Linked DNA regions of Homo sapiens. The protein of the gene in region 2 purifies or fractionates together with the protein of the main gene of each other region. This does not show direct contact. Each region holds a gene or a part of one and is shown on either strand. Other genes may lie near its edges. The genes, in order: THUMPD3, SLC45A4 and RXYLT1.

Evidence for each region.
Region 1: the proteins of SLC45A4 (region 2) and THUMPD3 purify together in Homo sapiens (affinity purification with mass spectrometry; one large-scale study listed by BioGRID and IntAct). This does not show direct contact.
Region 3: the proteins of SLC45A4 (region 2) and RXYLT1 purify together in Homo sapiens (affinity purification with mass spectrometry; one large-scale study listed by BioGRID and IntAct). This does not show direct contact.

What each region holds. Positions count from the first base shown.
Region 1 is NC_000003.12:9,366,050-9,369,701, reverse strand, and holds part of THUMPD3 (tRNA (guanine(6)-N(2))-methyltransferase THUMP3), read right to left. Parts: intron 2,795-3,652; coding exon 2,717-2,794; intron 1-2,716. UniProt on the Homo sapiens protein: Catalytic subunit of the THUMPD3-TRM112 methyltransferase complex, that specifically mediates the S-adenosyl-L-methionine-dependent N(2)-methylation of guanosine nucleotide at position 6 (m2G6) in tRNAs.
Region 2 is NC_000008.11:141,301,661-141,305,312, forward strand, and holds part of SLC45A4 (solute carrier family 45 member 4), read right to left. Parts: intron 1-3,652. UniProt on the Homo sapiens protein: Proton-associated sucrose transporter. May be able to transport also glucose and fructose.
Region 3 is NC_000012.12:63,778,257-63,782,008, reverse strand, and holds the start of RXYLT1 (ribitol-5-phosphate xylosyltransferase 1), read right to left. Parts: upstream 2,101-3,752; 5' UTR 2,049-2,100; coding exon 1,880-2,048; exon of another isoform or gene 1,547-1,879; intron 991-1,546; coding exon 835-990; intron 1-834. UniProt on the Homo sapiens protein: Acts as a UDP-D-xylose:ribitol-5-phosphate beta1,4-xylosyltransferase, which catalyzes the transfer of UDP-D-xylose to ribitol 5-phosphate (Rbo5P) to form the Xylbeta1-4Rbo5P linkage on O-mannosyl glycan.

The DNA.
Region 1 (3,652 bases), on a different chromosome or scaffold from region 2:
TGAAAAACCCTCATGCCCTAAAATGGGACTGGTTAAATTATTATACAGCCAAACAATGGAGTATACGCAGCCAATTCCAGCAATGATACTGCCAGGATCTCCAACATATAGGTTGAACATTCCTAATCTCAAAGTCCAAAATCCAAAACCTAAAATTTTTTTGAAGTGCCAACATGATGCCACACAGGTAGCTGAGATAGTGACACCTTTGCTTTCTGATGGTTCAGTGTACACAAACTTTGTTTCATGTATAAATTATTTTAAAAATCATATAAAATTACCGTCAAGCTATACGTATAACGTATATATGAAACAAATGAATCTTGGATTTATTTATACATAGGTTCCACCCTCAGAGTATTTCTTTCTTTTTTTTTTTTTTTTTTTTTTTTGAGACGGAGTCTTGCTCTGTTGCCCAGACTAGAGTGCAGTGGCGTGATCTCGGCTCACTGCAACTTCTGCCTCCCGGGTTCAAGTGATTCTCCTGCCTCAGCCTCCCGAGTAGCTGGAATTACAGAAGCCCGCCACCGCACCCGGCTAATTTTTGTATTTTTAGTAGAGATGGTGTTTCACCACCTTGGCCATGCTGCTCTCAAACTCCTGACCTCATGATTCACCTGCTTTGGCTTCCCAAAGTGCTGGGATTACAGGTGTGAGCCACCATGCCCAACCCAGAATATTTCAAAAAACAAACAAACAAAAATCCAAAACATTTCTGGTCCCGAGTATTTCAGATAAGGGATACTCAACTTGTATATGAAAAAAAAGCATAGCGCAGAAAAGTATGTATGCTATGCTTTCATTTGTGTAAATAAAATACATTTATTCGTAAAATATCTCCAGAATAATACCCAAGAAATTGCTAACAGTTGTTGCCTCCAGGGAGGGAGCTGCATAGCATGAGGATATAGGAACAAAGACTTACTTTTCACTCTATATCCATTCAGTCTTTACAAGTTTGCTCCAAATACATGTATTAACTAGTCTTTAAAAACCCATATAAATCACAGATTTGTTCATACTTTTAAAAAGGCAGATGGAGGCCAGGCGCGGTGGCTTACGCCTGTAACCCCAGCACTTTGAGAGGCCAAGACAGGTGGATCACGAGGTCAGGAGTTCAAGACCAGCCTGGCCAAGATGCTGAAACCCCGTCTCTACTAAAAATACAAAAATTAGCCGGGCATGGTGGCATATGCCTATAGTCCCAGCTACTCGGGAGGCTGAGGCAGGAGAATCGCTTGAACCCAGGTGGCAGAGGTTGCAGTAGGCTGAGATTGTGCCACTGCACTCCAGCCTAGGCAACAGAGCAAGACTCTGTCTCAAAAAAAAAAAAAAAAAAAATATGCGCGGGTGGAGGTGGGGAATGGGGGCCAGGTGCAATGGCTTACACCTGTAATCCCAGCACTTTGGGAGGCTTAAGTGGGAGGATCACTTGAGCCCAGAAGTTTGAGACCAGCCTGGGCAACATAGTGAGACCCCATCTCAATATTTTTTAAAAGAGGGGGGTGGGGACTAATAAATTCATGATTATCATCTGAATACTTAAGAGAACTCATTAGAATTGCTTTAAGCTTTTCTAAAAGTTAGATTTTTACTTAATACAATTTTTATCTATTTTCAGTCTGACTTTTTTTTTTGAGATGGAGTCTCGCTCTGTCGCCCAGGCTGGAGTGCAGTGGTGTGATCTCTGCTCACTGCCAGCTCCGCCTCCCGGGTTCACGCCATTCTCCTGCCTCAGCCTCCTGAGTAGCTGGGACTACAGGCGCCCACCACTACGCCCGGCTAATTTTTTATATTTTTAGTAGAGACGGGGTTTCACCGTGTTAGCCAGGATGGTCTCGATCTCCTGACCTCATGATCCACCCGCCTCGGCCTCCCAAAGTGCTGGGATTACAGGTGTGAGCCACCACGCCAGGCCCTTAAGTCTGACTTCTTTTAGGTCTGGTCTTATTGTTTTCTAGGCTGAGGGTTCATACAACTTTGACTCGTTTTTGAATAACGTTTTGGAAATCAACATGCTTGCCAATAAATAAAAGTTAGACAATTAGGTAGCGTATCACAGTTGTTTTTAAAAAGATTATTTCTAAGATACGTAAAACTGATAGAAAAATGTTTTTAAGCGGTTAACTCTAGAAACCTAACCAAAAAGCAGTGTGGAAAAAACCTAAAGCCTTGCTGCAATCTATTTTCAACCTTCAGCTTAGGCAGCAGCTGAATATTTAGGATTCAGATGCTAAATACATATTGGAGACAAAGCTGTTGTCCTAACAACTGAAGGAGTATTTAGATGTTATTTTGGCTTTATTTCAAAAAATGAAGAAAGAGAAGAAAGCAGAGCAAAAGCAGGATGGTGAGGAAGTGTTATTTGTAGAAGACACAAACTGTCACTTGTTCTTTGGTTCATGTTCTGGAAGCAATTCTCTTTTGGAACTAAATATATGTAAAAGCAAAGCAAATCTAAGGTTTATATCTCTTACAAGTAAAACAAGGTGTTTTCTTCTTTCTTATAAACTTTAATGGTTTTCAATACTAATTTTCAAAAAACATCTTTTGGGATAGACTGTCAGCAAAACTCTAGATTTTACTGTAAAAGCCTCCCAGTATTCTCTATTACAAAGACTACAGTAATGCTAAACTTTCACAGACTATGAAAAATGGAAATAATCTCTTTGTGGAAGACAGCCAAAAATCAGCCACCATGTTTAGGATAGCTCACCTTTGTTTGTTTGAACTGGTAATCTTGAAACTCCTGAACCACCACAAATAAGTTATCAACTGATCTCAGACAATGAACCTGGGTGAAAAAAAAAGAAACACATTTCTGAGAAAGCTTTTGAACAGCACAAGCTATCAACAATTAAGTATTTAAAAAATTAGGAATGATAGTTTTAAAGCAGCTACTAACTATATTTTGTATTTTTAAAATGTCCCATCTCCCTAGTTTCTCATCTCTTTGGTTACTAATCAGCTTTCCCCTAGAGAAAGGGAAAAAGGGCAGATGGAAAGAGAGAAGCATGAAGTGTTTTGTGGGCAACACGTCTTTTGTGGGAGAAGAGAAAGGTGAAGCCACTCAGGTGGGCTGTATCATATTTCCTCGATGACTTTCTAGGGTACACTGTATGCTGCAATGGTTAAAAGCAGGGGATTTGAGCTCCAGTTCTGTGATTACTAGCTGAGTGGCCCTGGGGAAATTATTTATGTGTCCTAAGCCTAATGATTAATGAGGATAATAATAGTGCCTATCTTCACAAAGCTGCTGAGGGTATTGGCTAAAATATTGGATGGAAAACATTTGCTTACCAATTCATCCCACAGATATTTTCTGGGTACCTACTATATGCCAGACACTAAGAGCGTGGGATATATTGGTGGAAAAAAAAATAGACAACAATCCTTGCCCTCTCACTGCTTATGTGGTAATGAGATATATCAGCTTTATGATAGTGAGATTGCAGTTTTCTGACCTTCACTTTTTACCTTGAGTGAGTCCTAATTACTTCTGAGCAAGAATTTTTGATGCAAATTAAAAGGAAAATCTCTTTTATGTTTCATCACCAAAGGTTAAACATCTGCTATATGCTGAAGTAAATAAATACTGAGATACTTAGAGAATTTCTTAAGTTGAACAGTATTCTTTCTGGTGAATTCAATC
Region 2 (3,652 bases):
GGAGGTCGAGGCTGCAGTGAGCCATGATCTCACCACTGGACTCCAGCCTGGGGGACAGAATGAGACCCTATCTCAAAAAAAAAAAAAAAAAAAAAAAAAAAATCCTGGGCAACTCAGTGAGACCCCATCTCTGCAAAAAATAAAAATAAAAACTAGCTGGGCATGATAGCATACACCTGTGGTCCCAGCTACTCAGGAGGCTGGAGAGAGAGAATTGCATAGACCTAGGTGGTCAAGGCTGTAGCGAGCCCTGATCCCACCACTGCACTCCAGCCTGGGTGACAGAGGGAAACACTGTCTCAAAAAAGAAAAAAAAGAATGAGGGATGAAAAGACTTTCAAATGGAGCAAACATACAAGTTCACAAAGAAAAAAACTGCCTTGTCAAGACTGTTAAGAACAATTTGTTCATTTTTTAAAAGGGTGACTGATGGTAGGTATCATTAGGATATTTAACATTGGATACTTTTTAAAAAGCAATACAATGGTTACTTTTAAATGCCAACATTATACTAGAAATTGCATCTTTTGCAGTTGTTTCAAATTAGGACCAAAAATTTAAACATCAACTTAAAAATGTGTCTATAGTTTTTCAAAGTTTTTTTTGTTTTTTAGATGGAGACAGAGGCTTGCTCTTTCGCTCAGGCTGGAGTGAAGTGGCGCAATCTTGGCTCACTGCAACCTCCACGCCACTCACCATCACCACCACCACCACCACCACCCCCATCCCCGCTGCCCTCCCTCCCCCCGACCCCACCCCTGCCCCCAGGTTCAAGCCATTCTTGTGCTTTAGCCTCCTAAGTAGCTGGGATTATAGGCGTGCACCACCACACTTGGCTAATTTTTGTATTTTTAGTAGAGATGGTTTTGCCATGTTGGCCAGGCTGGTCTCGAACTCCTGACGTCAGGTGATCCACTCACCTTGGCCTCCCAAAGAGCTAGGATTACAGGCATGAGCCACCGCGGCAGGCGTAAAGTTATTTTACAGAACACATAAGCAAAAATGTTTTCAGGCCTTTGCTTGACAGCAATGTAACTCTAAAACATTCCTAATTCATTCATCACTGACAGTGAAAAAGCTGCCTCTACGATACTCAGGCAGTCCCCCTCGCCTCGTGTCTAACATGCTCTTAATATGCGATTTCATCTCCAGCGTGGAGATGTCAAACCCCTCCCCTCAAAAAACTTACAAAATATTCCCTTCCCATATACACCAAACCAAAAACCATGCTCTTGAATAAATGTATTTCCCTAAAATGATGACTACATTGTTGGTGATAAGGAACTTATTTTCTGTTTTTTCTTATTTTCTTGTTTTCTGGCCTTACAATGTCTTTTTTTTTTTTTTTTTTTGAGACAGGGTCTCACTCTGTTGCCCCAGCTGGAGTGCAGTGTGGGTGTGATCTCCCCTCACTGCAGCCTGGACCTCCTGAGCTCCAGCAATCCTCCCGCCTCAGCCTCTCGAGTAGTTGGGACCACTGATGTGAGACACCGCATCCGGCTAATTTTTTTGTATTTATAGAGACAGGGTTTTGCCATGTTGTCCATGCTGGTCTCAAACTCCTGGGCTCAGGCAATCTGCCCGCCTCAGCCGCCTAAAGTGCTGGGACTATAGGCACGTGCCATCGTGCCCGGCTAATTTTTGTTTTTTTTTTTTTTTTGGACAGGTGGGGTTTTGCCGTGTTGCTCAGGCTGGCCTGGAACTCCTGGACTCAAGCGATCCTCCTGCCTCAGCCTCCAAGAGTGCTGGGATTGCAGGAACGAGCCTCTGTGCCCAGCCTGAGTGATTTCCTAAAATTGTGCAATAAGGGTCATATATAAAAGTATAATGACCACCACACCTGACCAGGTAAGCACTGTGTTGATCCCTCTTTATTATCTATTCTAAGGGTTTGCTATGCATTTTTCACTCAAGATTTTCCTTTCTTTGAAATAGGAAAAATTTGGTTGCCAGTCAATTCAGATGGCTCCAGGATTTCAAGGCAGAACCCCAAGAGAAACCTTGGGGCAAACTACAAAAACTCAGAGCAAGTAGCATAACAGAACCCCAGGTTGGAAGGGACTTTTCAATGCAGCAAATTAAGCACCTCTGGGCCAGAGTTCAGGAATGCAGTTTCCTCTCACTGCCAGCAAAATCCTTCAACAGGTTTAGGAGGATGAAAGTACCGAGACCCAGGTCTGAACAATACCTCCCTCACTGGGGCCTGGGCCCAGTAGAGGTGGGAGGGTGAGATGGCCAAGCTCAATGACTTGAAAGGTTACGCAAATCCCTTCAGCTGCCTCAGGATCCCACTCTGGACTGGCTGGCACCCTTATTCCTGCACTGGGGACAAAATGCCCAGCACTATTCCCCCCCGCGGCTCCCGACAGACTCTGAGAGTGAACTTGTGTTCTGGAGCCCTCACTAGACAGGAAGGTGGGCCTTGGGATGACCCTCAAAATAATGCAGCTACAGCCCAGCCCCTCTAACTTAAGAGAAATCCCACCAGCTGCGGTAGTATGAACCTATAACCCAGCAGCTACTTGGGAAGCTGGGGCAGGAGGATCACTTGAGCCTAGGGGTTCAAGACCTGCTTGGGCAACACAGTGAGACCCCCTGACTCTTAAATACACACACACACACACGCAAAGGAGAGAGACTATAATGCCAGCACTTCGGGAGGCCCAGGCAGGCAGATCACTTGAGGTCAGGAGTTCAAGACCAGCCTGGCCAACATGGTGAAACCCCATTTCTACTAAAAATACAAAAATTATCTGGGCATGGTGATGTGCACCTGTAGTCCTAGCTATTCGGGAGGCGGAGGCAAAAGAATCGCTTGAACCTGGGAGGTGGATGCTGCAGTGAACCAAGATCGCACCACTGCACTCCAGCCTGGGTGACAGAGTAAGACTGTCTCAAAAAAAAAAAAAAAAAGGGGGGGAGAGAGAGAACTTCCTCTCCCTCTCACCTGAAGTCCCCAAGCTACACAGCAGCTGAGCCAAAGAGAACTCAGAGCCCTTCTCTCCATCATCAGGGTTTTGTGCTATTTCCCGCAATCTAACCAGTCGCACTCAACAAATGACCCCTACCAAGTGTCCCGTCTTCCTGGGGCAATAACACCCACGTCGTCTGAGGTGGGAACAACAGCAACCCATCCACGGCTCTCAAAGGGCCACTCTATCAGGGATATGAAACACTAAGTGGGTTATGCGGCTGCCCTCTAAGTCTGTGGATGTTTTTAATCTTCTTAAAATGCCTCCTCCAAAAGTCACTTGCCAAGGAGGCCACTTCGTAAACACTATGCTGTTTCTCCTGTCACCTCCACCCAAATGGCAAGGGGTTGAAAATGACAATATGACCTGTTAAGCTTCCCTTTCGGCAGGCCCTCTCCTGATTCAGGGTAGAGAAGATTCATTTCCACGAACATTAAAGAGGTCTCCCGGTCCTCTGAAAGTGCCTGATTTCACAAAAGCTTAGCATTTGATACTCGGGGGAAAAGGCCACTAGAAGCACATTTTGAAAGTTTCACATTTAAAAAGATCCTTGTTCATTGATTTTGGTGGGGTAATTAAGCTAATCTAAACAAGGGGACCTTGTCTAGGAGCCGGTGGGGGAGGTGCAGCCGCTCAGGTCCTCTGCATGAAAACCCACTGCAGACGCCTGCTTTTGGGGT
Region 3 (3,752 bases), on a different chromosome or scaffold from region 2:
ATTGAAGGCCTGGTTTCAGGTACTTGAAATTTAGAGGTTGGTAGTAATCTTCTAGGATATATACTTGTATGTAAGTATGAACGAATTTATGAAATACCATGAGCAGAGCACTATGCTCTGTACATTTTCCTCTCATCTGGTACTTTCTATCCATATGCCTTATTGTACATAAACCCAACTCATGTTCAAAGGCCACATAAAGCGCTTTCTAAGTCACTAAATTCTTTGTGACTCTTTAAACCCTCAGGGCCCCATTCTCTAATTGAGCATAATATATATCTTAGAACACTACACTCTCATGATATTCACAGCAAAAATGCTTCTGTGGTCAATCAAGTTTAATCAACTACATACTATAATATATTCCTTCGCTGATACAATGAACATTGTCATATTAAAGGCTCTTGAGAAAGGCCTGCAATGAAGAACCTTGTTTAACTTTGTACTCTTCAGTGTTTCCCAAATGTGTTTGGCCATCAAGGGCAGGGGCCACATCTTATACTTGTGTATCAAGTGTCCAAAAAATACACAGATTCATGAAAATTCAGTTGACATATGCATTGCAATCTAATGACACTATACAGCCTACTCAATGTATCAATAAATGAAGCTGTGCTCTGCTAAAGACCAACAGTGGAATATGTATGTGTGTACATTTACAAACAGATGTTGTCTAATTGGAAGGAGAAAGGAATTATTGACAAAAAGCGAAAAAATATATCATGATGCCTTAATTAACAAATTATGAAATAAATTATATTAAAATGAATTTCATATCAATAAAATACATTTTATAATGCTTTTTACATGTCTTCCTTCTACGTATTAACTTACCAATGGCAGCTTTGCCCCAGATTTGTACACTGAGATCTGTTTTTCCTTTCGTGGATTTATCTAATATTTGAAGGCTAGTTTTAAATCTGTGTTGTTGCTCATTTTTTTCATCTCCTTCCCAAGGATTCCATTCTTCACTTTCCAAAGTGGACTGTTCTGTTTTAAAAAGAGTAAGTGTTTACCAGTAAGGTATTATTGCAGTTGTAGGTAAATTCAAATCATTTAAATTAAGTGTTAGTTCTAATTTCATCCTAACTTTAATTTCTGAGAGGTACAGCAACTGAATTTAAACTGGTAATACACAATGAAAACAAAAAAGAAAATCAGCAATTTTTTTACTGAACTTTTTTTACTCTGAAAAGTCTTAGAAATAAAATGCTACCTTGAGACAGGAAAATTCTCTTCCCCAACACAAAACCTTTAAAAATAACAGGATAATATGTATCAAGTTACAAGCTTAACTTTTGCAATTATTTTTATCCATTGTATACAGGTAACCTATGCACAAAAAACTGACTTCAGAGTGTAGTGTTCACCAGTCTTAGATACTATCGTGCAAAATTCTGAATAAAGGGAAAGAGAAAGCCGAGTCTGATCTTAACACAAGTTAAAACACAGGACAGGGGACCAGAATTTGGAGGTAAAGTCTGCCTTATGGTCACTGCAGGATTAGAGAGGGCTTTGTTTCAACATGGAAACGGATGTCTTAAACCTTGCGGCGATTTTGAGGCCTTCCAGGAGCATTCCCGCAAATCTCTGGCATTTGAGACGACGTCTTGGATTTTAACACGTGTTTGAAAGGCGTGCGCGCCTGTCACCCCCTGGGATCGGGAGCGGGGACGGCGTGTGAGATCTGGGTAAGAATGAGGACCATTCTCCAATTCCGAGCCAAGGGCTGGCTCGAGAGGCTGTAGGGGGCAAAGCGCTTCTCAGGCCCTGCGGGTAATCCCGGACTTGAGAGCCGGGTGCGGGGACCCGGCCCCAGCCGCCCAGCAGCCCCAGCCAGGAGCGCAGAGCCGGAAGGAAGCCGCCGACCCAGTCCTACCTCGGCCGCGTCTCTCCCGCGCGGGGGCCGCCCCCTTCCTGAGGCCCCGCGGGGACCCGGCCGGCGCCTGGCGGCGGCGCCCGAAGAAGACGTGGTAGGCAGCGTAGAGGGAGAATAGGCAGTACAGGGCGATAAGAAACGAGCAGAGCCGCTTCCGCGTCAGCCGCATCCCACTCGGGCTTCCAGTCAGGCATCCACCGCCATGGAGCGGGCGGAAAGAGAATCCGCGACACCGGCGGCGTCCGAGGCAGGCCCAGCCCGTTTCCAGGCAGTCCCCAGCCAAGGCTCCTCCGCCCAGCGCCCGGTACAGCCCCGCCCCGGACACGCCCACCGCCCGCCTCCCGCCCAGGCCCCGCCCCCTCCAGTCGCGGCTCATCCACCCGGCCGAGGGCCTGCCCACCTTCGACACTGGAGGAGGGGGTACTGGAGCGGCCCCTACCCCACGCTGCTTCCAGACGCCGGGCTGAGTGGGAACCTCTCTGACCTCTGCCGTGTACTCATTGCACCTTTCAACCCTGGCCACTTTTCCCAAGTACATAAAGACTCGGGGGAAAAAGAACACCCGCGGTGGTCCATGAAGGCCATGTGAAGGCATGGACTGTGACGTTTTTTGCTCTGCATGGAATCCCTAGCGCCTAGGACAGTGCCTACTACGTTGATAGATGAGTGAATATAAACGTCCTTTAAAAAAATTAAGTGATGATGGTCGCTTAACATTGTGAATGTAATTAATACCACTCACTTGTATGCATAGAAATAGTTAAACTGTCGAATTCATGTTTTATATACCTTACTGCAATAAAAACATTTTTAAAGTTAAGTTTCATTATTATGTGAGTTGAACGCACATAGGCATGCAGTATTTTGTCAAATAGAGGCTGTAAATGTGAATGCTTCAGAAAACTTTGTATCCAGCCTTGGGAAGATGGGCTACAATGTTTTGTCAGTTGCTCTGGTACTACTGTTCAAATTACCCAGCAGTCTTGCGACGGTATGTCTGCTAATTAGGGTGACCAATGGTCCCAGTTTGCCCAGGACTGTAAGGATTCTCCAGTTGGAGGATTTTTAGTGCTAAAATTGAGAAAGTCCTAGGAAATCAGTAAAATTGGTCACTCTAGCACCGACCCTAAACTATTAGGTCAAACACTTTACCCAATCCCCCAAACAGTTCCCTGCCTCAAAAGACCTGTTTTAAACCATTTTTGCTCAGACTCCCCAAATCCTATAAATATCACCCCCAACCTTCTCCTTCTGAGACTGCCAAGCTTCTGTCAAAGTGTGGCCTCCCTTACTGTAGTAGATTTAATAAATTTAGCTTTCCTTGATTAACAGGCTATTCTGGTGTCTTAGGGAGATGGCAGTTGTTTTATGTATGCTGTATTGTTGTTTATCCTATTTTGTTTGTTTGTGGAAATGACAATTATTTAAGGATAGGAAGTAATTACCTTATAATTACCACAAAACACCCACTGTATCAATGTACATTCAGATGCTACTGACTAATGGTTTTACTATTGAGAAATGCATACAAGGTAAAACTAATATGCAGTTGATGTCATCTTGAATAGGGGAGAGGGCCATGAAAATGAAGGAGTTGTTTTACCTCAAACTGCAAATGACTGCATAATTTGATGATAAGCTTTTAAAAATGTATTTAGGTTACAAAGGAATCTTCTAATTGATCTAAGTCTGGCAGAGTTCATTTTCCTTTCTCTTGGTGTTTAATGGTTGAGCTACAGCTGGGAGCTACTTTCTGTATATGCTCTCATCTCTTCAGGTGGATGGAAAGAGAGGGAAAGAGATGTGGTGGGGAATGCAGCAGTGTGGAGGGGGAGACAAGGTTAAATATCCTCTGGGGGTTGAAGCTCCGCAT